Homo sapiens: one gene and its partners. The protein of the gene in region 1 interacts with the protein of each later gene in a pairwise test. Each region holds a gene or a part of one and is shown in the gene's direction. Other genes may lie near its edges.

What was found.
Region 2: the proteins of TMEM14C (region 1) and NCR3LG1 interact in binary tests that used the Homo sapiens proteins (3 or more experiments, as listed by UniProt).
Region 3: the proteins of TMEM14C (region 1) and HSD17B13 interact in binary tests that used the Homo sapiens proteins (3 or more experiments, as listed by UniProt).
Region 4: the proteins of TMEM14C (region 1) and MFF interact in binary tests that used the Homo sapiens proteins (3 or more experiments, as listed by UniProt).
Region 5: the proteins of TMEM14C (region 1) and MMGT1 interact in binary tests that used the Homo sapiens proteins (3 or more experiments, as listed by UniProt).
Region 6: the proteins of TMEM14C (region 1) and SLC10A6 interact in binary tests that used the Homo sapiens proteins (3 or more experiments, as listed by UniProt).
Region 7: the proteins of TMEM14C (region 1) and GORAB interact in binary tests that used the Homo sapiens proteins (3 or more experiments, as listed by UniProt).

Annotation. Positions count from the first base shown.
Region 1 is NC_000006.12:10,721,419-10,726,005, forward strand, and holds the start of TMEM14C (transmembrane protein 14C), read left to right. Parts: upstream 1-1,651; 5' UTR 1,652-1,823; intron 1,824-3,137; exon of another isoform or gene 3,138-3,151; 5' UTR 3,152-3,195; coding exon 3,196-3,215; intron 3,216-3,542; coding exon 3,543-3,619; intron 3,620-4,488; coding exon 4,489-4,587. UniProt on the Homo sapiens protein: Required for normal heme biosynthesis.
Region 2 is NC_000011.10:17,361,555-17,365,522, forward strand, and holds part of NCR3LG1 (natural cytotoxicity triggering receptor 3 ligand 1 precursor), read left to right. Parts: intron 1-3,968. UniProt on the Homo sapiens protein: Triggers NCR3-dependent natural killer cell activation.
Region 3 is NC_000004.12:87,305,552-87,309,519, reverse strand, and holds part of HSD17B13 (17-beta-hydroxysteroid dehydrogenase 13 isoform A precursor), read left to right. Parts: intron 1-3,968. UniProt on the Homo sapiens protein: Plays a pivotal role in hepatic lipid metabolism. In vitro, it catalyzes the oxidation of a variety of lipid substrates, including 17beta-estradiol, retinol, retinal, and leukotriene B4.
Region 4 is NC_000002.12:227,327,783-227,331,750, forward strand, and holds part of MFF (mitochondrial fission factor), read left to right. Parts: intron 1-895; 5' UTR 896-1,007; intron 1,008-1,823; exon of another isoform or gene 1,824-1,963; coding exon of another isoform or gene 1,964-2,001; intron 2,002-2,843; coding exon of another isoform or gene 2,844-2,883; coding exon 2,884-3,064; intron 3,065-3,968. UniProt on the Homo sapiens protein: Plays a role in mitochondrial and peroxisomal fission. Promotes the recruitment and association of the fission mediator dynamin-related protein 1 (DNM1L) to the mitochondrial surface.
Region 5 is NC_000023.11:135,967,216-135,971,183, reverse strand, and holds part of MMGT1 (ER membrane protein complex subunit 5), read left to right. Parts: intron 1-73; coding exon 74-126; intron 127-3,690; coding exon 3,691-3,794; intron 3,795-3,968. UniProt on the Homo sapiens protein: Part of the endoplasmic reticulum membrane protein complex (EMC) that enables the energy-independent insertion into endoplasmic reticulum membranes of newly synthesized membrane proteins.
Region 6 is NC_000004.12:86,842,696-86,846,663, reverse strand, and holds part of SLC10A6 (sodium-dependent organic anion transporter), read left to right. Parts: intron 1-3,968. UniProt on the Homo sapiens protein: Transports sulfoconjugated steroid hormones from the extracellular compartment into the cytosol in a sodium-dependent manner without hydrolysis.
Region 7 is NC_000001.11:170,545,636-170,549,603, forward strand, and holds part of GORAB (RAB6-interacting golgin), read left to right. Parts: exon of another isoform or gene 1-156; intron 157-3,968.

The DNA of each region.
Region 1 (4,587 bases):
ATCTGGTGGGGACGTGGAGAACTTTTGTATCTAGCTCAGGGATTGTAAACGCACCAATCAGCACCCTGTCAAAACAGACCACTCGGCTCTACCAATCAGCAGGATGTGGGTGGGGCCAGATAAGAGAATAAAAGCAGGCTGCCCAAGCCAGTAGTTGTAACGCACTTGGGTTTTCTTCTATGTGGAGGAGGCTTTGTTCTTTCTCTTTTTCTTTTTGCAACAAATATTGCTGTTGCTCGGTGCTTAGGTCCTGTGTTGTCTTTACAAGTGGTAACGCTCACTGCGAAGATTTGCAGTTTTGCTCCCAAAGCTACGAAGACCACGATCCCACCGGAAAGAACAAACATATTCCAGACGCACTGCCTTAAGAGCTTTAACATTCGTTATAGAAGTCTGTAGCTTTGCTCCTTGAGCCAGTCCAAAGCTAGGGAGACCACGATCCCACCGGGAAGAACAAACAATTCCAGACACACTGCCTTAAGAGCTTTAACATCCACCACAGAGGTCTGTAGCTTTGCTCGTTGAGCCAGTGAGACAGCAAACCCACCAGCAGAAAAACTCCCTGAATACTTCTAAACATCGGAAGAAAAACTCTAGAGACACTGCTTTTAAGAACTAACACTCATCGCGAGGGTCTGCAGCTTTCTCAAGTCAGACCAAGAAGCCATCAATTTTGAACACACTGGCACGTTGTGATCTCTCACTATCTCCACTAAAAATAACAAAAATTAGCCTGGCAGCCAGGGGTGGTGGTACAGGCCTATAATCCCAGCTACTCAGGCAGCTGAGGCAGGAGAATCAGTTGAACATGGGAGTCAGAGGTAGTGGTGAGACAAGATCATACGCTGCACTCCAGCCTGGGCAATAGAGTGAGACTCCACATAAAAAAAAAAAAAACTTGGCTGGAATTCGCTTTATTCACTGACAATTATATTGGTCAGATTTGTGTATGTTGATACTTGTAGGGGATGGAGAGGGAGAAGTCAACGATGACAGCAAATTTTAGTGTAGAGCAACTAAGAGAATGGTGGTGCAGGAAACGGAATAGGAGTGACTCCAAGTGGGAATGGAGATAATATGCTGTGGATATTTTGGGTCCACAGAGCTGGGTAAAAATCAGGTTTAACTTACTCCCCATCCCCCTTTAAGATGCTTCTCAAGCAGCCTCACTCCCTAAAACAAACGGATATTTGGCTTTGAGCCACATTATTCTGCAGCCCCCGTATTTTCTTCCAGGCAGGCCCTTCCTGGTGTAGACAAGATCGGGCTTGAGTGACACTCCTCCCTGATGGCCTGCATCTGGTTTATACCCTGTAACTTGTTCCTCTATTAATGGGGTCCTTCAAAATCCAGCCTCAGATTCCCTGGTCCCGCAGCGGTGGCCTCACCTCTGGCGTGGCCGAGCTCACGTGGTCCGGCTTGTGCAAGTCCCAGGTCCAACTCCGGGTCTCCTGCTTTTGGCCACTCAGGATTGGACCTGGGACTGATACTGGTCGGCCCTGCAGGCGCTGCGGACAGGGGAAGCACAGAGATTCCCCGCCGCGTTCCCTGGACTCAGGAGCTCGCCGCGATGCCCCGCCCCACTCTCCACCCGCTGAATGCAGGGCGCATGCTGCTACTTGGCGGCTCAAGCCCCGCCCGCACCGTCCCCATTCTCTGACCGCCCCTCTCCCGGTACACTGCGCAGGCACAACAGAGCCGCTCCCCTCTCCTCGCCCCGCCACCGGGACGGAGAGCGCCCGCCGCTGCATTTCCGGCGACACCTCGCAGTCATTCCTGCGGCTTGCGCGCCCTTGTAGACAGCCGGGGCCTTCGTGAGACCGGTGCGAGTATTTGGGGATTATTCTTATTTTCTGCCACTTTTAACTTTTAGGGATTATTTAGGAGTTTCACGGCCGTCTGCTTTTCGTCCCCCCGATTCAGCGGGCCTTCAGGCCGTGTGGTCGGTGCTTTTCTCGTTGGGTATTTTCTGCTTTTAAAAGAAGTTGTGGATGCGCGGAGCCCCTGGGCTCCTGAGGCAAAGGCTTACCCATGTAGCATAGTGTTGCCTCGTTTCTTGGTGATTTTCTTGCTCCATCTCTTTAAAAGCCTCCCTTACTCGGTGCCGTCTCGAGTTAAGAACTGTGGGCAAGATCCCAAGCCCGCTGCCCTTCCCTGTTTTATGGAAACTTAATTCTTTTTTTTTTTTTTTTTGTCCTTGAGGGAGGGACTTGCTCTGTCGCCCATGCTTGAGTGCAGTTGCCTGAATATGTCTCATTGCAGCCTCTGCCTCCTGGGCTCAAGCCATCCTCCCACTTCAGCCTCCCAAGTAGCTGGGATTTACAGTCGCATATCACCATGCGCGATTAATTTTTTTATATTTTTTAGTAGACAATGGGTTTCACTATGTTGGCCAGGCTGGTCTTGAACTCCTAACCCCAGGTGATCCGCCCGCCTCGGCCTCCTAAAGTACTGGGATGACAGGCGTCAGCCACTGCGCTTGGCCTAATTCTTTAAACAGAATAAACGGGGTATGCATTGCTTTCATCTTTTGGCTCACTGGACACAGGATACTTTCTGTAAGAAAATAGAAGCTGTTTTTCCAAGGGTGTAGTGTCACATGTGAATATGACCACTGTTTCCGTATATTTTATCCTCTCCTACTACTGCCCTCCTAACAAGAACTGTGAGTTGGACGCAGAAGTTTCTAAAAAAGTTGAGCTTTGAAATTGGCTGTTGCAGCAGGGATGAAAAGCAACACCCCTACCTCCCCTCAAAAGAGACATTAAAGTAGTTGGATTAAGGGCACGGGAGTATTTGCTTTTGAATTTAGTGATAACATGGGTAGCTGATGAAATGACTAACACATTCCCTGATTTTAGAGCTGGTCAGTGGATCTTGCTGAGTTTCCCGTGGGCCTATGTGATTAAAACTGAGGTTTTCATGACAATGGTCAGCATCTGTTCAGGGTTTACTAGGTGCTAAGCACCTTTACATGTGACATCCATTGAATGCTCACTACAGCCCCAGGAAATCGGTACCAGTGTTATCCTCATGGTACAGTGAAGAATACTGAGACTTAGGTTGCGTAGCTTGCAGGTTGGACACACTTCTTTCTGACTGCTGGAGAGCTGTGCTTTTAACTACCTCTGATCCAGCTTGTTTTCTGCAGGTGCAGGCCTGGGGTAGTCTCCTGTCTGGACAGAGAAGAGAAAAATGCAGGACACTGGCTCAGTGTGAGTGCAGTAAATGGGTATGGAGTAGCCAGGAGCTTCTGGAAACCAGAGTTCCTTTCCTTAGCTGAAAAGAACCTTAAGAGTAGACTGCCTGGGATGGCATGGGGGATGGGAGGATCACTGGACCTGTGGGCCAGAAACTTGGGTTTGAGTCCCAGCTCTGGCTTTGCTGAGTTGTGTGACTCTCAGAAAGTCATCCAACCTCTGTGGTCCTTATTTTCAGTGATAGGACCTGTGGGGAATGATTACCTTTTAGTCCCATCCTATGACAGTATGGTTTGTTTTCAAAGCCAGGTTAGCACTGACTTCTCCCTCTTGTGTTTTCAGAGTGCCTTTGCATTGGTTTGGCTTTGGCTACGCAGCACTGGTTGCTTCTGGTGGGATCATTGGCTATGTAAAAGCAGGTAGGGTTTTGTTGTTACTTAGCCTCTTAACATCTTCACGTTGTCCCAGTGAAATGTGAATGCCCGTGTCCCTGAGAAGCAATCTCATTTGAGTCAGGTTTGCTGTGGGTCCCCAAGCTGGAGTGCAGGCTTCCTTGTCAGTCTTGCAGCTCCTGCCCTTGCCCTTTGGTTATCTGGTGAAGCTGAGCCAGGCCTCTTTTGGAATTACTTGTTTTTGCCTCTTTATCTACAGATAGGCAGGGGCGGTTGTAGTTTGTTATTATCGTTGACTGCCATTCATCAGCCACGACCCCCAAGTGCCATCTCTGGGCTCAAGTAGGAGGAAACCTCTGGCCTACACAGACTGGTATTTTGAACTCTCCTCGTTAGGCCAGGCAGGGGTGTGTCAGTGGCTGTGCTTGTGTTTGCCCCCTAGTCCTTGCCTGCATTCCCACCCCAACCCCTGCACCAGAATTCTTCTTCTCCAGGTCTTTGTATTTTTTTAATTGACTGGCCTTATCTCCTTCTCCTTTTGTGATTTGCTGGAGGTCCTGCCTGTACACAATTCCAGTCCTTCATGGTTGATCAGGCCTGATTAGAAAGAAGGCCTAGCCACAGTTCCATCTAAGGAGGGAAGATGGCCTTCTTTCCTTTCCTTAGATGGAAGTGCCCTGCCTATTAGAGGAGAGAAAAATGGGGTGGGAAGACCCTGACTTCTCTGAGAAGATAGCACACTCTCTGTAACGTCTTCCTGCTTGAGTCCACCTTGGCTATGAGCTGTGTTGAGAGTTCTCTGTGCTGTCCTCCTTTGTAGGGCAGCGGTCTGGGGGATTCCGTTAGTGAAATAAGTGCCTGACATTACAATGCAAGCTGTGTTTGCTTCCCTCTAGGCAGCGTGCCGTCCCTGGCTGCAGGGCTGCTCTTTGGCAGTCTAGCCGGCCTGGGTGCTTACCAGCTGTCTCAGGATCCAAGGAACGTTTGGGTTTTCC
Region 2 (3,968 bases), on another chromosome or scaffold:
GATTACAGATGTGAGCCACCACACCTGGCCAATGGTATTATATTTTTAATTTCAAATTCCAGTTGCTCAATTGTTCATTCCTGTCAAATAATTGATTTTTGCTTATTAACTTTGTATCCTGCAACTTGCTTTAATCACTTATTCATTCTAGGGATTTTTTTGTTTTTGTTTTTGTTTTTGTTTTTGGCCAAGTCTTGAGATTTTTCTACATAAATCAGGCTGTCTGTTAAAAATACAGTTTTATTTCTTCCATTATTTTATTTTATTTTTTACAGAGGTGAGGTCTCACTATGTTGCCCAGGCTGGTTTTGAACTCCTGAGCTCAAGTGATCCCCCTGCCTTGGCCTCCCAAAGTGCTGGGATTACATTGTGTGAGCCACTGTACCAGGCCTCATATTTCTTCCATTCTAACTTTATACCTTTTATTTCCTTTTCTTGTCCTGTTATGCTAGCTTAGACTTCCATTACAATGTTGCACAGGAGTGGTTAGAAGGGACATCTTGTCCATTTCTGATTTTACTTTCTAACCATGAAATATGATATTAGCTATTTTTTGGTAGATATTCTTTAGCAAGTTGAGGAAGTTTCCCTTTTATTCCTAGTTTGCTAAGAGTTTTTCATATGAATCAGTCTTGGGTTTTGTCAAATACTTTTTCTGCATTATTGGTATGATCATATAATTTTTTCTTTAGCCTGTTGATATGATGACTTACATTAACCAATTTTTGAATGATAAGCCAGCCTTGCATATGTGTAATATGCCTCTCTTGGTTATGGTATGTAATTTTTTCTGTATTGTTGGATTATATTTGCTAATATTTTCTTGAGGATTTTGTATCTACTTTAATGAGTGATATTGATCTGTAGTTATCTTTTCTGGTAATGTCTTTATGCGGTTTTGGCAGTAGGATAATATTGGGCTTGTAGAATAAGTTAGAATGTGTTCCCTCTGTCTACTTCTACTTTCTGGAAGAAATTGTAAAAAACTGGCATTATTTATTCCTTAAATGTTTAGTAGGATTAACCAGTGAAACCATCCGAACCTGGTGCTTTCCTTTTTGGAAGGTGATTTTTTTCTTCTTCTTTTTTTTTTTTTTTACTAGTTATTGACTCAGTGTCTCCTTCCTTCCTTCCTTCCTTTCTTTCTTTCTTTCTTTCTTTCTTTCTTTCTTTCTTTCTTTCTTTCTTTCTTTCTTTCTTTCTTTCTTTCTTTCCTTCCTTCCTTCTTTCCTTCTTTCTCTCTCTTTCTTTCTTTCTTTCTTTCTTCCTTTCTTCCTTTCTTCATTTCTTCATTTCCTTCCTTTCTTTCTCCCCTCCCCTCCCCTCCGCTCCCCTCCCCTCCCCTCCCTTCCCTTCCCTTCCCTTCCCTTCTCTTCCCTTTCTTCCTGCAACGTCTTGCTTTGCTGTCCAGGCTGGAGTGCAGTGGTGCGATCATGGCTCCCTGCAGCCTTGACCTCCTGGGCACTAGCGATACTCCCACCTCGGCCTCTGGAATAGCTGGGACCACAGGCATGCACCACCATGCCCTGCTAATTTAATTTTTTTTTTTTTTTTAAGAGATGGAGTCTATGTTGCCCAGACTCGTCTTGAACTCCCTCGGCTCAAGTGATCCTCCCACCTTGGTCTCCCAAAGTGCTGGGATTACAGGCATGAGCCACCATGCCTGGCCCACTAAAGCACTTCTTTTTATGTTTCTCGCACAGCAGGTCTATTGGTGAAAGGTTTGTCTGAGAAAGTCTTTATTTATACTTCACCTTTGAAGGAAAATTTTTCTGGATATAAGATTCCATGTTGGTGTTTTTCTCTTTTTTAAGTTTCAATGCTTTAAATATTTCACTTCACTCTCTCCTTGCTTGCATTGTTTCTGACAAGAAGTCCAGTGTTGTTCTTGTTCTTCTATATGTAAGGTGTGTTTTTTTTCCTGTGACTTTTTTCTGTCTTTCTTTTCCCTCCCTCCCTCCCTCCCTCCCTCCCTCCCTCCCTCCCTCCCTTCCTTCCTTCCTTCCTTCCTTCCTCTTTCTCTCTTTTCTTTTCTTTTCTTTCTTTCTTCTTTTGAGATGGGGTCCCACTCTGTTTCCCAGGTTGGAGTGCAGTGGTATGATCACGGCTCATTGCAGCTTCACCCTAGTGGGCTCAAGCCCAAGTGATCCTCCCACCTCCGCCTTCCAAGTAGCTGGGGCCACACGCGGGTGCCACTAAGCATGGCTAATTTTTGTATTTTTTGTAGAGATGGTGTTTCATTATGTTGCCCAGGCTGGCCTCGAACTCCTGAGCTCAAGTGATCCACCTGCCTTGGTCTCTGAAAGTGCTGGGATTATAGGAGTGAGCTACCATGCTTGGCCATCTTTGTCTTTCTAAAGTTGAAATATGATATGGCTAGACGTGGATAGGCATATTTGGATATTTATCATGCCTGGTATTCTCTAAGCTTCCTGGGTCTTTAGTTTGGTGTCTATCATTAATTTTGGAAAATTCTCAGCCATTATTTATTCAAATTATTTCTTCTGCTCCTTTCTCTTTTCTTCTTCTTGTATTCCCATTATATATCTGTTACACCTTTTGCAGTATCCCACAGTTCTTGGCTATTCTGGGGTTTTTTTTAAATTCTTTTTTCTCCTTGTATTTCAGTTTGGGAAGTTTCTTTTTTAAAAATTGTTTGTGATAGGGTCTTGCTCTGTATCCCAGGCTGGAGTGCAATGGCGGGATCTTGGCTCAATGCAACCTCTGCTTCCCAGGTTCAAGCAATTCTTGTGCCTCAGTCTCCTGAGTAGCTGGGACTACAGGTGTGCACAACCATGCTGGCTAATTTTTGTTTTTTAAGTAGAGACGGGGTTTTGCCATGTTGGACAGGGTGGTCGCCAACTCCTGACCTCAAGCAATCTGCCCACCTTGGCCTCCCAAAGTGCTTGGATTATAGGTGTGAGCCACCACACCGTGCCCAGTTTGGGAAGTTTCTATTAACATCTTCAAGCTCACTGATTCTTTCCTTGTCAGTTTCTTTTTTTTTTTGAGACGGAGTTTTGCTCTTGTTGCCCAGTCTGGAGTGCAGTGGCGTGATCTCAGGTCACTGCAACCTCCGCCTCCTGGGTTCAAGTGATTATCCTGCCTCAGCCTCCCAAGTAGCTGGGATTACAGGCATGCGCCACCACCCCTGGCTAATTTTGTATTTTTAGTAGAAATGGGGTTTCTCCATATTGGTCAGGCTGGTCTCGAACTCCTGACCTCAGGTGATCCACCCACCTCGGCCTCCCAAAGTGCTGGGATTATAGGTATGAGCCATTGCGTTCAGCCTCCTTGTCAGTTTCAAGTCTACTGTTGAACCCACTGAAGGCATTCTTCATTTCTTTAATGGTGTTTTGAGCTCTAGCATTCACTTTTGGTTCGTTCTTAGCATTTCCATCACTCTGCTTATATTATCCATCTGTTTGTGCATGTTATCTGCTCTTTCTGTTAGTGCTCTTAACATTTTAATTATAGTTTTTTAAAATTCCCTATATGATAATTCTAAAATCTGTGTCATACCTGAGTCTGGGTCTGATGTTTGCTTTGTTTTTATGTATTTTTTAGCCTTGTAATTTTTTAGTTGAAAGAGAGATATTATGTATCAGGTAATAGGCTTTTATTATGCGGCCTTATGTTAATTTGGCTAGGAGCTGGGTTGTGTTTAATGCTTATTGTAGCTATAGGTGCCAGAGACTTCAGTTTCTCTAGTGTTTTTTTCTCTCCTTTCCTATTGTCTTTGGGTTTCCTTATGAACTCCTTAAATAGGTTCTGTGCCTTGTAGCTCTCTCACTTATAATCTTCTGTTATTATACTGGAGCCCTGTTGATGTGGTAGTAAAGTGTTGGAGGAGAATCTGTTTATACTTTTATGATTAAATCTTATTCTTTTAGTGGCCTGAGCCTCTGGACTGTGGCCTTCAGAAGTGTTTCTTAGCCTTTTCTCTTTCTCTCTTCTTAAGTAATACA
Region 3 (3,968 bases), on another chromosome or scaffold:
TTAAAATCTTCTTCAAAATCTTTAAATCTTTAAATTGTATTTTGTAGTTTTTGGTGTTTAAGTCTTGCACATATTTTGTCAGATTTATTCCAAAGTATTTCACGGGTTCTTTTTTTTTTTTTTTTTTTTTTTTTTGAGACAGAGTTTCACCCTTGTTGCCCAGGCTGGAGTGCAGTGGCGTGATCTTGGCTCACTGCAGCTTCTGCCTCCTGGCTTCAAGTGATTCTCCTGCCTCAGCCTCCCAAGTAGCTGGGATTACAGGCACCTGCCCCCTCGCCCAACTAACTTTTTGTGTTTGTAGTAGAGACAGGGTTTCACCATGTTGGCCAGGCTGGTCTCGAACTCCTGACCTCATGTGATCCACCTGCCTCAGCCTCCCAAAGTGCTGGGATTACAGGCATGAGCCATCATGCCCAGCCCTATTTGACGGTTTTTGACGCTAATGCAAGTGGCATTTTAAAAAATTTTATATTTCCCATTGTTTGTTGTCAGTATATATTGGATTTTTGTAATTTGATCTCATATTTTGCAGTCTTGCTAAATTGCTAAACCTCTTTTTGCTAAACTCGATAAGCTTTTTTTTTTTTGGTAGATTCCTGGGCCTCTAATTTTCTTTATGGGAAAGTTTTTAATTACAAATTTAATTTCTTTAATAGCTACATGGCTATTCAATTTACTTATTAATTCTTGGTAATGTGTGTCTTTCAAGGAATTTGTCCATTTCATCTAAGTTGTAGAATTTCTTTGGCATAAATTTGTACATAACATTCCCTTATTATCCTTTTAATGTCTTTAGAATGTCTTATTTATTTATTTATTTATTTTTATTATATTTTTTTGAGACAGAGTCTCGCTCTGTTGCCCAGGCTGGAGTGCAGTGGCACAATCTTGGCTCACTGCAAGCTCCGCCTTCTGGGTTCATGCCATTCTCCTGCCTCAGCCTCCCTAGTTGCTGGGACTACAGGCGCCTGCAACCATGCCCAGCTTATTTTTTTTTTTTTTTTTTTTTTTTTTTTTTTTTTTTTTTTTTTTTTAGTAGAGACGGGGTTTCACCCTGTTAGCCAGGATGGTCTCGATCTCCTGACCTGGTGATCCGCCCGCCTCAGCCTCCCAAAGTGCTGGGATTACAGGCGTGAGCCACCAAGCCCAGCCTATTTATTTATTTAGTAGAGACAGTCTCACTTTGCTGCCCAGGCAACAAAGGTTTTGAATGCCTGGCCTCAAGCAGTCCTCCTGCCTTGGCCTCCCAAAGTGCTGGGATTACAGGCATGAGCCACTGCACCTGGCCAAATGAATATGCTGATAATATCTTCTTTATAAGGATGACATAAGAATAAAATAATGTAATACAAACAAAGCCCCTGTCACTGAAAATGTATAGACTTCAAATGTTAAAGTCTTAGAGAACAGAATTTATATGAAATAGCAACAGCAACAATTTCCCAGAGGAAATACTCTCTCAGCTTTCTTCTGAGGAGCAGTTTCTAAATTGAAATTGTATCAGTGAGAAGATAACTATACTAACTTCATAAGCCTTGGGCCTTTTTGAAACAAATCCATATAAACTATGAACAAACTTGAAATAGAACAATTTGAGAACAGGGTACAAACTGCATTGGTGTATCAATTTCAGTATTTGGTTTTAGCTTAAATAGACTGACTTGAGATAACATAAGGAGAACCTTGACCCCCAAGCAACATCATCTCGCGAGTTGACTAGGCCGGGTGTGGTGTCTCACGCCTGTAATTCCAGCACTTTGGGAGGCCACAGCAGGCAGATCACTTGAGGTCAGGCATTCGAGACCAGCCTGGCCAACATGGTGAAACCTCAGCTCTACTAAAGATACGAAAATTAGCAGGCATAGTGGCCTGCACCTGTAATACCAGGCACTCGCAGGAGAATCCCTTGAACCCGGAAGGCGGAGATTGCAGTAAACCATGATTGTGCCACTGCACTCCAGCCTGGGCAACAGGAGACTCTGTCTCGGAAAAATAAATTTTTTAAAAAAATGAAAAAAAATAAAAGTTGACTAAATTAGTGTCTTGGTACTAAGCACTGTAGGAAGTGAGTTTCATGGAACCCCAACTCTCTTGGGGCCCAAAGCAAGTCATATTAATATTGAAAATTACATGCATATACATGCATATGACCAAGGTGATAAAAACAATTATTCTGCCTGAGTTGGAGAATAGTATCCCAGTAAAATAAACAAGAGTCTCAAAGTCTTTTGTATCCTTTGAAGCTGTCATGGTGGTTTGTAACTAGGCAACAGGTATATATTGTTAATCTTCTTTGCATTTAATTCCTTTTATAGAGAGACACAATTTTACGAGCAGATGCAATTACTAGCATGAAGGTTTCTTTGTGAGGGTAGTTAAAAGGCCCACATGAGCTCTCTTCTTATCCTTGTCCTTCTTTCAGCCAGATCTTCCCTGCCCCTTTGCTCATTCCATCTTTCACCCACCTACCCCCAAAACAAGGAAGTAAATCTTGCATTAGTCAACAATACCAAAGTGATTTTCAATATGACTTTCTCTGCAGAATGTTATTATTTCTGCCTCTTTACATTCACATACTGTCTTCCTTTTTTTTTTTTTTTTTTTTTTTTTTTTTAGATTGGGTCTCACTCTGTTGCCCAGGCTGGAGTGCAGTGGCTTGATCTCAGCTCACTGTAACCTCCACCTCCTGAGTTCAAGCAATTCTCCTGCCTCAGCCTCCTGAGTAGCTGGGATTACAGGCATGTGCCACCACACCTGGCTAGTTTTTTTGTATTTTTAGTAGAGACAGGGTTTCACCATGTTGGTCAAGCTGGTCTCGAACTCCTGACCTCATGATCTGACCACCTGTGCCTCTCAAAGTGCTGGGATTACAGGCGTGAGCCACCGGGCCAGCCACTCTCTTCCTTTCAGTTGCCTACTCATCTCTTATGCATTCCTGGACATCAGTTGTCCTTTTGAAGCTTTCCTCCACTATCCCAGCCCATGTGAATCCTCCTTCCAGTTATAGCCCTTAATTCTAGATGGCTGATATTTTTCAATAATTGTTTTAAGATGACCATTTTAGCCTATCAGCTAAACAATATCAAAGACAATAGCTATTTTTCAAGTACTTTAGTTTACCTTATTATAGAGTGCATAATAGATATTCAGTAAATAGTAAAGGAGAGGTGAAGGCTTGCATAGAATGGATTCTGGTGGTGTCTCTTGGTGAGCTTTTAGCATCAAGATTAATCAGCAGTTTCAGCAATGAGCTCAGACCTTCAGTTTTAGATCTTTACTCATATCAGATAAGAGAGTGAGAAGAGTGGTATGTATCAGTGCTTTATTTATATTTGCATCCAATTTGAACTATGAATATTACAAAGGTGCACACATAGGTTCAGACAGATTGATTTAAAATGACCAAAGATGACCTGTCGTAAGCAACCTGGGTATCTTAAGATGCACTCCTTGGAGAGGGAATGTTCCTAAAAACATTTTCAGAGGGACGAACTGTATGAAATTCAGTAAAACATAAATCATGAGGAAAACTGATTACTCTCTTTTTGACATGAAATGAGAGTTTTAATGCATGGTTACGATTATTAACGTACTCCGCTGCAAGACGTTAATAAAGTTACTGTTTTGCAGGCTAGAATGTCTTGATGCTGTAATCAGAACACACTTTTTCCCCTTTCTTCCAGCTTCAAATGCAGATTCATAATTGGGCTGACTTCTAATAACTGCAATGTTTTCTGCCTTGGGCTTGCAGCAGAAGCCTGACAAAATAGTGTTTGTTTAGGCAATAATTTATTTATTTATTTATTGAGATGGAGTTTCATTCTTGTCGCCCAGGCTGGAGTGCAATGGCGTGATCTCGGCTCACTGCAACCTCTGTGTTCAGGCAATAATTTAGACTTTACCTTACTTGTGATTACTATAGCAATTACTATAGCCACAAGGCATAATTTTACTGTCTCATTTCAATT
Region 4 (3,968 bases), on another chromosome or scaffold:
TATTATTATAAAACTTCAATTTATAATGGCCAAAGGCTATAATCTTTTTGAGGTAGCTTTTTTCAGTGTTAGTTCTGAATATGAGCTTTTGCTATGCTTGAGATACACGCAAGTATTAGAAGAGCATCTCATCTGGAATGATGCACAAAAATTGATTATAAAGGTTGCCTGTGGGAACCTGGGTGGTTAAGGATAGGATTGAAAGTGGGACACTTCCTTTTCTCTGTATAGCTTGCGTACTTTGTACCGAGTACATGCATTACTAGTTCAAAATTTTAACATCGTAAGTGAATGAAAATTTAAACAGGCCGGGCACGGTGGCTCACACCTGTAGTCCCAGCACTTTAGGAGACGAAGGCCAGAGGATTTCTTGAGCCTAGGAGTTTGAGATCAGCCTGAACAACATAATAAGACCCTGTCTCAACAAAAAATACAAAAATTAGCTGGGTGTGGTGGCATATGCCTGTAGTCCCAGCTATTCAGGAAGCTCCATTGCAATCTAGCCCGGGTGACAAAAAAAAAAAAAAAAAAAAAAAAACCAATTCATTTGTTCTTCTTTAACATATATGTGTACCTATATGCATATATATACGTAAGTATTAGATTCATTTAAACTTACGTATTTTTCATCTGCCACATTTTTCTAAATACAAATCAGAAACAATGACAGAGCTAGTCTTTTATATTGCCTTAACTAATGAATAGTTGTAGGACCCCATCTGTGGAACTAAGATTGGTGGTAAGCTTAATTTTTTTCTTTCTTTATTTTCTTACTGGTCTCTTGATGTCAGGTTGTGCATCTTTGTGACTGTTACTATTTGGAGAATTTCCAGTAATGAATCCCTAATAGTGGTTTCATCTAGTTTCTCAATTAGCCCCTGTTTTTCTTCCCCAGGGACAAAAGTGGCTCTCAATCCAGCACATGCACATTGAAGCAAGTTAAAGGATTTAATATGAAGCACAGAAGCAGATAGTGCCAAATAGCAAGCAGTAGTTGTTACACATTTGTGAGTAAAAATGGTCCCTTTTGGCTTACTTTCTTAGTCTTTAAATCGTCTGCATGCCAAATCCTTAAAGATCTATGTCCCCAGAGATTTTTTGATAAAGAATAAAAGATGTGAGTTAGCAGTCATAGTCAAACCAGTTGCTGGGGCTGAGCGTCCTGAGCAACCTCTAAGAGCTCTCCTAGGCATCTCAGTGAGGCGGGGGCTTAGGGTGGGGCTATATCTCCAGCATGGAGTTTAGGAAATACCTTAGCCATGGTAAAGTCATGTATACTGTCTTTAACTTTTTATGTCTTTAATTTATATATAGTGTCTTTGCTGAAAATTTAGTGTAATTTCCATTTGAAGTTTACCCTAAATTTTGAAGTTTATTTTTATTTAAAGAAACCATTAGACGTCAAATATGTAGGCTGCCTCAGTTACATTTACTTTTTACCCTTTGTATTCCCTTCATGATTTATTCATTTGGGCTTAGTCTTAAAAAAGGATTTTTCCCCTTTGGAGTATAATGATTAGAGGAGTTTTATGGCAGTATTGTTTTCTTCGAATCTGACTTCACATTTGTATATACATTTGATACAGCTTCTCTGTATCCTGTTTGCAAAATCATAAGACAGTGACTGTGCTTACAACTGTCTTTATGATTTTTGAGGTATAGAAAAACTCTTCTTAGGATAGATTTAACAATTGGTTTCTCAAATCAAGCCCTAAGCCATGTTCAAATCCAAAAGTCATTTTACGTAGATATTTACTTTTATTCATAGTTTTCTTATGAAATGAATTGTTGAAATACTGATTTTTATTCTTTCTTTTTTACAGCTGGAAAAGCAGTGTCCGTGTTGTTATGTACACCTCCAAAAAAAGTTCAAATGTGTAGGGGAATTGTTGTGTAAAGTAAACTGAACTGCAGGGTAGCAGTATTTTAATAGCTATTATAGACCTGTATTTACTGTATTTAAATGAGTAAAGGAACAAGCAGTGACACATCACTAGGAAGGTCAGTGAAATTTTATTCAGTTGAGCTGGTATTATAGGTTTGAGAGACAATGGCTTTAAAGCTTACTGCCGTAGGCTAACCATGCTCTTTTACATTTTTATCAGCTTTTGTATTGGCGGCAACATTCTTTCTACTGCATTAAAAAAAAAAACACATGTAAATATGATATTAAATACAGATTAATAGTGTAAAACTTTCAGTCCCTCCAAAAATGAATACAAACATGAGGATTTATTATTACAAATTCTAAATTTGGTATTCATTGCATCTCAGTCATTAGGAGAAGTTTTAGTTTGTATGATGTGATTTTCAGGGAGTTGCATCTTCTTTTTTAGTAAATTCAGAGTTAATGTTATGCATCTGTCATTTAAAGGTTTTGAATAACAGATGCATTTGTCATTTAAAGGTTTTATTTTTTCATGCATGACAGTAATTTTTAATTTTATATTTTTAAAGTCCAAGCAGCTTTCCCTCAAATTGATGAGGAAATTTTAAGTTTAAATTTTATTGCAGGCATTTTTTTAGTTACAAGCAGCATGCATGTTTACGCAGAGAGTATGTGTGTATGTGTGTGTACACATTTGTGTTGTAATTCTATAATAATTTAAAAAATTTGCTCCTAAGCAATATCCTCAAGGTACAATTTCAGCTGATAATTAAGAAGGCATTTTGTTGAGGAAGACATTTTCTTTCATCTTTTATTTTTGCTTTGTATGTGTTCAGTACTTGCAAATGAGAAGTTTCCTTTCGCTCTTTCTATAAGGTATTGTCTTCTAACTTCACTGCGTAGAGGAGACTGACATTTTAACAGTCAGCCCTGTCTTTAAATTTTTCTCCCACAGGGTGAGCAGGGCAGCATTTCCTTCTCCCACTGCTGCTGAGATGGCAGAAATTAGTCGAATTCAGTACGAAATGGAATATACTGAAGGCATTAGTCAGCGAATGAGGGTCCCAGAAAAGTTAAAAGTAGCACCGCCAAACGCTGACCTGGAACAAGGATTCCAAGAAGGAGTTCCAAATGCTAGTGTGATAATGCAAGTTCCGGAGAGGATTGTTGTAGCAGGTATTTCACCTTTACTTAGAAGGTTGCCTGTTAAATCTTTGTTTTATATGTTTCTATGAAAACTTTTGAGTTTTTCTAAATGTTATTTAGAAAAGGAGTTGGAAAATGCAACTTTATACTTTTGAAATTTCTATTCATTATTATAGTCTGAATTGCAAACAGTATTTTTTAGTAATTCAACTAATTATTGAGGTTTTACACACATAAAATGTATACATTTTTAAGTGTGTACTTGATGAGTTTTGACAAAAGTGAACACCCATATAACCACCACCACAGTCCAAATAGAGACCATTTTTGTTACTCTGCAAGGTTCCTTTGTGCCTCTTTCTCACTCAGTCCCTACCCCTCAACTCTAGGCAACCATGATCTCCTTTCTATAGCCAGAGAATAGATTTGTCTTTCCTAGAGTTTCATGTAAATGGAATCATAGAGTATATACTCTTATCTGTCTTCTTTTGTTCAGTGTAATGTTTTTGAGATTCTTCTGTTGTTGCATATATCAGTTGTTCATTCAGTTTTATTGCTGGGTAATATTTCAGTTTGGATACACCATAATTTGTTTTTCCTTCATCTTCATTCGTTGATTGCTTTTTGTTTGAAGCTGTTAGGATTAAAGCCACTGTGAATATTCAGGTTCAAGTCTTTGTGAGGACATATGGTTTCATATCTTTAGGAGTGAAATTGCTGGATTATATACAAGTTATTTTCAACTTTGAAAAACTGCTAAACTGTTTTCCAAATTCTTGTACTATGTTGCATTCCATCAGTGATGAATAAGTTACAGTTGCTCCACATCCTTGCCAACATTTTGTATTGTCAGTCTTTTTAATTTTAGCTGTTTGAGTGGGCGTGTAGTGCCATCTTGCGATGTTAATTCTATTTCCCTGATTATTAATAATTT
Region 5 (3,968 bases), on another chromosome or scaffold:
TATATTGATTTGCTTCATTTTAAGAAAGAAAAATGAACTACAGTTTCCTTAATGGTATGCTTCTGGTTTATAGATCGTTCTTATATGCGATTAACAGAAAAAGAAGATGAATCACTGCCAATAGATGTAAGTTGGTCATTTATATTCCGTTACATGTATGTTTAAAATCAGCCACATAGCTTGTAATAATTTTTTTTTTACTGGTTTTTCGTAAAATTTTTCAGACATGAAATAAAATCTGATCTCCACTTTTCTTTTCTTTTCTTTTCTCTTTTGAGACGGAGTCTCACTCTGTCACCCAGGCTGGAGTGCAGTGGCCTGATCTCAGCTCACTGCAAGCTCCGCCTCCCAGGTTCACACCATTCTCCTGCCACAGCCTCCCGAGTAGCTGGGACTACAGGTGCCCACCACCATGCCCGGCTAATTTTTTGTATTTTTAGTAGAGACAGGGTTTCACCGTGTTAGCCACGATGGTCTCGATCTCCTGACCTCATGATCCGCCTGCCTTGGCCTCCCAAAGTGCTGGGATTACAGGAGTGAGCCACCGCGCCTGGCCTGTGATCTCCACTTTTCATCACTCATAAAGCTCAAAGATTTGGAAAGGTTTCTCTATTTGGTTTCTAGAGCTGTAGTCGAAATAGTCTTTCTCGAAGATGCTCTGTCCATAGTATGGGATGGACTTAAAAAGTTGATTATTTAGCTTTATTTCTTAGAAAAGTTCATTTTTATGTAAGGGAAATAAAGCCAACAGTACATTGTTTAGGGACATACATAGGTGGTAAAATGAAAGTGGTTTTAGTTTTTTTTCTTTTTTTTGAGACAATGTTTTGCTCTTGTTGCCCAGGCTGGAATGCAGTGACGCGATCTGGGCTCGTTGCAACCTCTGCCTCCCAGGTTCAAGCAATTATCCTTCCTCAGCCTCCCAAGTAGCTGGGATTATAGGCGCCCACCACCACGCCCAGCTAATTTTTTTGTGTTTTTAGTAGAGACAGGGTTTCCCTGTGTTGGCCAGGCTAGTCTCGAACTCCTGACCTCAGGTGATCCATCTGCCTCAGCCTCCCAAAGTGCTGGGATTACAGGTGTGAGCCACAGCGCCCGACCAGGAAAGTGTTTTTTAAAACTAAAATGATAAGTATTCCAGCATCACTCACAATTTTTATCTTTACTAGACTTGAAATTACACAAGTAGTAAGTTCTTTGTAACAGAGTCAAACAGTAAAAACTAAAACTGACCCTACACAATTATAAAAACACCAACAACAGAAGAACTGGCCCCGTTCCTTGGCAGTTCCACTTCTACTCCCAACAGTTTGGAGTATAGCAGTAGTTCAGTCTTCTTCCTATACACAAACAGCATTATGTATGTGTAGTTTTACCTAATCCAAACACGTATTATTTTTTCTTTAAAAAGTTATACATGTGTATATATGTATAGTTTTATAATTAACTTTTTTATTACTTAACAACTTCAGTCTTACTTTCATGACAGCTCATATAGATTCTTGTTAAAAGTGCCTGTGACTGTGTTATATAAAACAAGTCTTCTGGCCAGGCATGGTGGCTCACGCCTGTAATCCCAGCACTTTGGAAGGCCAAGGCAGGCAGATCATGAGGTCAGGAGATCAAGACCATCCTGGCTAACACGGTGAAACCCCGTCTCTACTAAAAACACAAAAAATTAGCCGGGCATGGTGGTGGGCGCCTTAATCCCAGATACTCGGGAGGCCAAGGCAGGAGAATCACTTGAACCCGAGAGGCAAAGGTTGCAGTGAGCCGAGATCATGCACTCGAGATCTGCACTCCAACCTGGGTGACAGAGCGAGACTCCATCTCAAAAACAAAAACCAAGTGTTCTTGGTAGACTGGTGGTGGGAATGTAAATTGGTATCGTATATGATGTTAGATTTTAATTTAAACAGGAAAATAGATTGTGGCTAATTTTGACTTTGTCTGTAATTAAATATATGATTGATGAGGCTGTTAACTCCTATCACCTTTTTTTTGTGGTAGATACACACACACACACACACACACACACATACACATATTTATGTCTATTTTAAAGAACTTTTTTCTATAATCTGAACATGCCCATAATCCCATGTTGGTTAAAATAAAACATTCTGCGTTTTTGCTCGCTCAACCTCTTTGGAAAGCAGTTGATATTACTCAATCAAATTGAACATGTGCATACTCTACACTCAGTGTTTCCATGTGTGAACTGGGCGACATGCATATGAATATTCATGTTGATTGTGAAGGTAACAGGAAACAACCCACATATCCAATAACAACAGCAGAATGGATAAATTGTGGTATTTTCATATCATGAAATACAAAGCACAGTGAAAACTGGCCGAGCACGGTGGCTCATGCCTGTAATCCCAGCACTTTGGGAGGCTGAGGCAGGCGGATCACCTGAGGTCAGAATTTGAAACCAGCCTGGCCAACATGGTGAAACCCCATCTCTACTAAAAATACAAAAATCGGTTGGGTGCAGTGGCGGGCACCTGTAATCCTAGCTACTTGGGGGCTGAGGCACGAGAATCACTTGAACCTGGGAGGCTGAGGTTGCAGTGAGCCGAGATTGCACCACTGCACTCCAGCCTGGGTGACAGAGCAAGACTCCATCTCAAAAAAAGAAAACACACACACACACACACACACACACACACACACACACAATGACATAATGTTGAGCGAGGAAAGCTAGACACAAAAGAATACATTTGAGTCCATTTAAATAAAGTTCAGTATGGGCAAAAGTAAGGCATATATGTTTTAGAGATTCATATATATTTAATAGCTGGTAAAATTATCAAGAAAAACAAGAAACTGAGTAATATATAATTCAGGACCATAGTTAACTTTGAGAGGGAAGGTAAAGGATATCATCTGAGATTGACATGTGGAACTTGAAAGGTACTAGGAATGATCTATTTCTTAAGCTGGGTGGTGGGTACATGGTCTTTTAATTGCTTTATGCTGTGTACATATGCTTTCTGCACTCTATGATATATAACAATAATACTGGCTGGGTGTGGTGGCTCACGCCTGTAATCCCAGCACTTTGGGAGGCCGTGGCGGGCGGATCACCTGAGGTCAGGAGTTCGAGACCAGCCTGACCAACATGGAGAAACCCCGTCTCTACTAAAAATACAAAATTAGCCTGGCGTGGTGGCGCATGCCTGTAATCTACTCAGGAGGCTGAAACAGGAGAATTGCTTGAACCCGGGAGGTGGAGGTTGCAGTGAGCCGAGATTGCACCATTGCACTCCAGCCTGGATAACAAGAGGGAAACTTCGTCTCAAAAACAAAAAGCAAACAACAACAACAACAACAAAAAAAAAACAAAAACAATAATACCTTAAAAATTCTTAGTTGCTCTTGGAAGCAGGTAATATTTGATCATTGAGTTCTGAGTGGCTCAGTACCATTCAGTACTCAGTGATTTTGCTTATTTGAACACTAGATTTATTTATTGAAGCATCAGAGGTATTTTTGCAGCCAATCCACAGAATTTATAGATTGTATTGTGTCTGAATCCCAGTCATTTCAAGTGAGCATTGTCTCCCTGATGGTGGCCCTGAGAGGACTACCTGTTAGAGGCAATGAAGAGGTAGAGAGAAAATTGTAAATATTTATAATAATGTTTGTGTTATTTAGTATTATCAATCTTTATACTCACAGATAGTTCTTCAGACACTTCTGGCCTTTGCAGTTACCTGTTACGGTATAGTTCATATTGCAGGAGAGTTTAAAGACATGGATGCCACTTCAGAACTGAAAAATAAGTAAGTCTTTCTCTTTTCATAGGCATTGCATTTCATAGAGGTTTGCTGTATTCACATAATTTTAAAAAGTATGTTTTCTGATACATAAAAGTTGGTTTTGTTTCTGCATTTTGATTACACAGTTTGTATGAATAATGAGGTAAAAACATTGAGGCGGTATTTGATACTGTAAGA
Region 6 (3,968 bases), on another chromosome or scaffold:
ACCTCCACCTCCTGGGTTCAAGTGATTCTCCTGCCTCAGCCTCCTGAGTAGCTGGGAATACAGGTACCCGTACCCACCACCGTGCCTGGCTAATTTTTGTATTTTTAGTAGAGATGGGGTTTCGCCATGTTGGCCAGGCTGTTCTCAAACTCCTGCCGTCAGGTGATCCTCTTGTCTCGGCCTCCCAAAGTGCTGGGATTACAGGCGTGAGCCACGGCGCCTGGCTGACACAAGACTATATTTATGGAGGAAATATATATTTGTGTGTGTGTGTGTATTCAGAGTGCCAGGTACATAGTAGTTGTGCAATAAATATTAGCTACTTTTCCTCTTTTCTTTCTAAATTTTGATTTTGAGTCTTACCAACAAAACTAAAAAAACAAGCAAAAACTAAATATTAGATTTTTAGAAGCTTATAGGTACAAAAGTAATAAAATCAATTTTCAGTAGAAACTCAAATAGGTGAAAATCAAGTACGGTGTGAAACAATATCTAAGTAATTACATTTCTTCATAATTGAATACCAACAAAAAATCAGTTTTAAGCAAAACTCAGTGGATCGTCATTGATAGGAGTTTTATCTGCTGTTAATGCTGGATAAAATCCAAGAGCGGTTAGCACAACATCTTCATTTGACACACGAGGAAGTGGAGATTTAGCTCCCTGCAGATGACCTTGAGCACGTTTCTCATGCCTTCACTCCTGCTTCATGCAGTGCACTTGCAGTTCTCCATGTGTTCACCCCACACAGGCATTTCAGAATCCATTGGTTGGAACCGGTTTGTGCGTTCTGCAAATGAGATGACTGATGACACCCATCCTCTTGCAGTTGCCTGGGCTTGTCATCTTAGCCTTGCCCTGTGACTACCCTCATTCTCGCCATGGCCACTCAATCCACTGCCAAGCCCTGTAGCCCTTCCTCTTGCTGTGTTGCTCACAGTTCTTGCTTCCTGTTGGTCTCCACTAACACTTCCTCAGGTCAGGCCCTCACAATTTCTTTCTTGGCTAATTGTATTTTCACAACAATGAAAGTGCTGTTCTCTGCACCTTTAGTCTCTCCATTACGGCTTTGCAGTAAGTGGATAAGGCAGGCTCTGATACCAGATTGCCTATATTCAAATCCTGACCTTGGGCCTCTTCTCTGTAACTGGAAATCATAACATTACCCGCATGGTACTGTTAGGAGAAAACGAACATGTTATACATACAAAGGCTTCTCAACACCTACTAAATTGGTAGAAACGACTAAGCCAGTCTACTTTACTTCTCCAGGTTCTTTTATTCCACTAGTCCCCTTAAGAACAATGGTTTTTAGTCAAAATGGGCTGCTCATAGTTCTCTGAGCATATCTCACACTCTTCCAGCTTTCTTTTGCCCATGTTGTTCCCACAGTCTGCAGTGCCAACTGACCTTATTTTGTCTCCTCCAGTCATGATGTTGTTCTTCCTTATAACCATCCTAGAAAGCAGTTGGCTGATATGTATGAAGAGCCTTAAAAATTATCCTGCCTCTGGGCCGAGTTTGGCTGATCATGGCTGGGTTCTTTTACATATTTTGGGGTTGGTTAAATGTAGACTGGTCTTGGGTGGTGATATGGTTTGGCTCTGTGTCCCCACCCAATTCTCATCTCGAATTGTAATTCCCGTGTGTCTAGGGAGGGGCCTGGAATCCCCAAGTGTCAAGGGAGGGAAGTGATCAGGTCATGGGGTTGATTTCCCCCATGCTGTTCTAATGATAGTGAGTGATGGTTTTATAAGTGTTTGGAAGTTCCTCCTTTGTTCTTCTTCTCTCTCTTGCTGCCTTGTGAAGAAGGTCCTTGCTTCCCCTTCACCTTCTGCCATGTTTGTAAGTTTCCTGAGACCTCCCCAACCATGTGGAACTGTGAGTCAATCAAATCCCTTTCCTTTATAAATTACGCAGGCTTGGGTATTTCTTTACAGCAGTGTGAAAATGGACTAATGCAGGTGGCTTCAACCTGGACAACTGGGCTCTCTTACTACATGATCTCTCATTTTCTAGTAGACTAGCCTAGACCTGATTACATGGCAGCAGCAGGGTTCTCAGAAAGGCAAAGCAGAAAAGGTCTTTTGAAGTGTTGGCTTTAAACCAGATCCTCTTCCTTCCACCACATTCCATTGGCCAATGCAGACTGCAAGGCCAGTCCAGCTTCATGGATTAGGAAAGTCGATTTTGCCTCTTGATGGGCTGAACTTCCAAGTCACATTACAGCGGACATGGATAAGGGAGGGGTGAAGAATAGGGGGCATTTTTTTCCCCAATATATCCTACTAGAGATGGACAGAATTCCTACCTTTGAGGGTAGAACATGAAAATTAAGATCTGGCAGTACGGTGTAGTAGTTAAGGGCTCTGGAAACAGCAAGCAGACCCATCACTTACTGACTGGATCATCTCGGCAGATTATGCACATTTTCTATGCTTCAGTTTCCTTACTTCTATTTTTTAATTTTTATTTTGATTTTTTTTGAGACGGAGTCTCGCTCTGTCACCCAGGCTGGAGTGCAGTGGCGTGATCTCGGCTCACTGCAAGCTCTGCCTCCCAGGTTCACACCATTCTCCTGCCTCAGCCTCCCGAGTAGCTGGGACTACAGGCGCCTGCCACCACACCTGGCTGATTTTTTGTATTTTTAGTAGAGATGGGGTTTCGCCATGTTAGCCAGGATGGTCTTGATCTCCTGACCTCATGATCCGCCCACCTCAGCCTCCCAAAGTGCTGGGATTACCGGTGTGAGCCACCGAGCCCGGCCAGTTTCCTCACTTCTAAAATGAGAAGCATTCCTACATCGTGAGCTGTTGAGAGGATTGAATGAGTTAATATTTCTAAAGTGCTTAGAATCTCACTTGGCATAAAATGTGATATGAACTATTATTATTATTATATAAGGCAGGCAAAAGAACATCGTGTCCTGGGTCTGTGTTTTAGTCCCTGCTCAAGGAGCTGCATGCCTAACCCTAACCCTGTATATAATGATATATCATAATATATATGTGTCATGTTTTATCTATTCATCCATCAACGGACAATTGAATTATTTCCACTTTTTGGCAATTGTGAATAATACTGTTGAGTCTCAGCTTTCATTTCCCTTGAGTGTATGCTTAGGAGTGGATCTGAGGTTAAATATTAAGTATTTTGTGACTATAGGAAAAGCAAAGCAAAATATGAAGTCCAAATGTCCCCCTTCCTCTACCGTAGTTTCTCCTGAAACTACTGCCCAGAAATGTTTCTCTTGTCTGTCCCCATAATCCGAATTATGTAACTCTTCCTTATCATCTGTTGGAAAGCATTGCAATAGCTGGGCTACTTGTCTGCCTCACCTACTATATCTGTAAGCTCCTGGAAGGCTTGCTCATCTTTGCTTGCACAGTACCAGCCAGGTAGTGGTAGGCACTCGGTAAACATGAGTGAATGAGTGAATGACAGTTTCCGATTGCCTGTGTGTATTACAAAAACAACCCTCAAAAGAGGTCCAGGCCAGGCGTGGTGGCTCACACCTGTAATCCCAGCACTTTGGGAGGCTGAGATGGGCAGATCACTTGAGGTCAGGAGTTCGAGACCAGCCTGGCCAACATGGCAAAACCCCATCTCTACTAAAAATACAAAATTAGCCAGGTGTGGTGATGCATGCCTGTAATGCCAGCTACTCAGGAGACTGAGGCAGGAGAAATGCTTGGACCCAGGAGGCAGAGGTTGCTGTGAGCCGAGATCACACCACTGCACTCCAGCCTGGGCAAGTGACAGAGCGAGACTCCATCTCAAAAAAAAAAAGAAAGAAAGAAAGAAAGAAAGAAAGAAAGAAAGAAAGAAAGAAAGAAAGAAAGAAAGAAAGAAAGAAAGAAAGAAAGAAAGAAAGAAAAGAGGTGTCCATTTATTGATGCAACTCAGGACAGCTCCCACTGTCTTGTCTTTTCTTTTCTTTTCTTTTCTTTTCTTTTTTTTTTTTTTGA
Region 7 (3,968 bases), on another chromosome or scaffold:
ACTCAGTTTTCTATCTTACTCTGTTACACTAGAAATGAATCAGAATGCCTCATTAGGCCAGGGTAAACCACAACATCAGAATGTTTATATAACAATTTATTAAAGCGGAAATGCTTGATTGTGGTTTTTAATAAACTGTTGAGTGTTTAAGAAAGAGTCTTGTGGTTGTCCTTGTGACTTTTGTAATTGTTGTTGGACCATATGCTATTAGACTTAGAGTTGTCTTTATTAATTAACTACTTAAAAGAATGCCATCAGTAGCTGATAACCAGAGGTTCCAGGTTTCCATTAATAAGGTCATTAAGGGAGATAACAGAGATTTTATTTAAGATTAAACTAAGCCTTGATTTGTAGCACATTTTATTCTCTGTAACATAAGTTTGCCAGAGGAACATTTTTATGCCTTTGTAGCCTTTTATATGAATAATTCATATTATAAGGTAGAAGTACTAGGTACCTCAGTTGAAATTTGAGGCCGGGCACGGTGGCTCACGCCTGTAATCTCAGCATTTTGGGAGGCCAAGGCAGGTGGATCACGAGGTCAGGAGTTCAAGACCATCCTGGCTAACACGGTGAAACTTCATCTGTACTAAAAATACAAAAAATTAGCTGGGCGTGGTGGTGGGCGCCTATAGTCCCAGCTACTCAGGAGGCTGAAGCAGGAGAATGGCGTGAACCTGGGAGGCGGATCTTGCAGTGAGCCAAGATTGCGCCACTGCACTCCAGCCTGGGCAACAGAGCGAGACTCCGTCTCAAAAAAAAAAAAGAAAGAAAAGTAATTTGATTTTAATTTTGTCCTAGTGGAAACTGGAGAAAGACGCTTTTTCATATTCAGTATTATATAAGAAATGTCATAGTTTTAGCCTTCTAAGAACCACAACAAAGAAGGTGGGATTACTAAAGGAAAAAACATCCTATAGTCTATAAGTATCCTAAATGAAATTTTAGTAAATTTTTAAATCTTTAGTAAGTTACAGATGACAGTTTCTCATGGTACTAATATTGATGTAGTTGAATGTAAGTAGATGTTGTGTGCCACTATTTTTGTTTTTATTTTTAGGTTTTTGAGACGGAGTATCACTCTTATTGCCCAGGCTGGAGTGCAGTGGTGCGATTTTGGCTCACTGCAACCTCCGCCTCCCAGATTCAAGCGATCCTCCTGCCTCAGCCTCCTGAGTAGCCCAACTATAGGTGCCCACCACCACACCTGGCTAATTTTTTGTATTTTTAATAGAGATGGGGTTTCACCATGTTGGCCAGGCTGGTCTCCAACTCTTGACCTCAGGTGATCCGCCTGCCTCAGCCTCCCAAAGTTCTGGGATTACAGGTGTGAGCCACCACGCCTGGCCATGTGCTGCTATTTTCAAAAGCCGAAGCTCTTGCGTTGAGTCAAAGGGAAACAAAGACTTTGGTGACTAGAACCGTAGTGTGTCTTGTTCATGCGTAAGATTAAGGTATTATTTTCTAAACTTGCATTTGTGGTTATTGAGAAATTACAGATCGGTAAAATAATATTATGGTCCAGATTTGAAGTGAAAGATAATCCCTAGGACAGTCAGTTTTTATGGGAGATTTCCTTGTTTTTTCTTTTTTTAATAAAAATGATATCTTAGTTCTATAGTATTTGGTACAGTGCTATGTCCACAAAAGGTTCTTGGATAGTGAATAGGCCAGAACTTGCTTTAAAATTGGCTTCTGTAGAGCAGTGTTTGGATAGACACCTCTGAGAAGACTAGCACTTTGAGCCAATTTGAGAGAGTTGCTGCTGCTGCTGCTGCTACTGCTGCTACTGCTGCTACTGCTGCTACTGCTGCTACTGCTACTACTGCTACTGTTCACCACTGGGATTACAATGTTGCCATATGCTGTGCAGACCAGTTTATAAAATCCAGAGTGGCTGCATGTAGAACATTTTTTTAAATCACTATTGACCATCTAGGTTTCATAGACACCCTCATACATGCAAACATACACCCACAGACGAATATTTTTAAATCACTTTATGAGTAATTTTTAAAAGTAAGATTAAAAGGGATTGTGTAAAACAACTTTAAAATTTTAATAAGAATGTAAGCATGGTAACCATCTTTGTATCAAGTAATGTTTGACTCACAAACATAAAAAGCTGAGAGAGTATAGTTACATCCTTGTAGCAACACAAGATAGTCTAGATACTTGTAAAATATTGGGTGTATGTTCTCCCTGCTGAAATGATTAACTCTATGATAAAATCATTTTTCCTTTCTATGCTTAGAAATATATTTTTTACTGACTGATTCTTAAGTTTGAGAAAATTCACCTAGGATATGTTTTGCTGAAGACTCATCTGAGATTTCACATATGATCGATTTTATCATCTAGACTCTAGAATGTGTCTCTGCATTTGTATTAGTTTCCTAAGACTACCATAAGAAGTAATCCAAACTGGGTGACTTAAAACAACAGAAATTACTTCTCTTTCATTTCTGGAGGCCACATATCCAAAATCAAGGTGTCAGATTTGTGATTTCTTCAGAGACTCTAGGTATCCATTTCTTGCCTCTTCCAGCTTCTGGTGGCTGTGGGCATCCCTTGGCTTGTGGCCACGCCATGCCATTCTGTGCCTCCATAGTTATGTTGCTTTTTCTTCTCTCTCTAAACTTCCTCTGCCTTTCTCTTAAAAAGATGCATGTGATTACACTTAGGGTCCAGCTGGATAATCTGGAATAAACTCCTCAAAACCTTTATCTTAATCACATCTTTTTCCATATAAGATAATTTTCACTCATTTGTCATAGAAAGTAATATTCACAGGTCCCAGGAATTAGAAAGTGAATATCTTTGGGAGGCCATTTTTTAGCCTACCACACCATTCATCTTTTGATTTCTTTAACAGTGGCAAGATGTCTTCCTCTGTCAGTTGTCTCCACTTTGCAAATACTGGATAGGCAGAAAATGAAAACTAAAAACAGGTTACAAAAATGGTGTTTTCAGTCTTCTTTTATACTTTCTGGAGGTGACATGATACTTTGTACAGCACAGTAAAGAAGCTCAACAATGATAAGTTATTGCATCATCCTTTCAGATCATTTTCTTATTTTAATTTCTTTTTATTACAAAAGGGAATAATTGATAAGTAATGATGAAATAATTCCTAGGATGATGAAATGGCAAAATGTTTCAAGATACAGGAAATATAAAAATACTGCAATAATCCTATAATATATCTTAGATTTATGAAAGGGTTCTTTGGACCTCTCTGGTAATTGCAAAATATAATTTATTTTATTCTGTTTTTTTAAATAAGTAAATTTTCTCATTATTTGAAAGACTTAAGAAAAGATAAAAATTATGAAATGCTAATTTATACAAATAGTGAGAACTGCTCAGAAAAGGAACTGAAAAACTAAAAGTGGACCCGTGGAACCCAGTGGTATACTGAGGGTTAATGGTTGAGTTTTTAAACATTTCAGGGGATACCAAAACAAAGAGACAATTTCTAGAATCCTTTAAAAATAACATTCATTAATTCATTCCATCCCCCTTTAAAATAACAAAACAGTTCTATAATTACATTTCCAGTTCACTCTGTCTTACTGTGTTATGTATAATGCTCTTATTATTTTGTTCCAGAATGTCATCATACACTAATTTGGTATTACCCACCTGACCATAGGCTGGTAGTGCAGTTTGTGAAACTAATCAATATTTTAAACATTAAATCACTCTGTGGGAGAATATATATTCGTATTTCTGGCCAGAAGGACTTTAAATAAATAAACAAAATACAAAATCTTCAGTGATTTATCCAGGGTGATAGATCAATGGAAACCAAGGGACCTGTTCGCAAATGTTAATTTCAATTCAGTATTCATGAATCCAGACTGTAAATCTCTACTGATTGACTTTGACTGGCTGAAGGAGACCACAGACTTGCAGAAAAGGGAGGTTTGAGGCAGGGTCAGGGCAGGGTATTCATACACCTATAG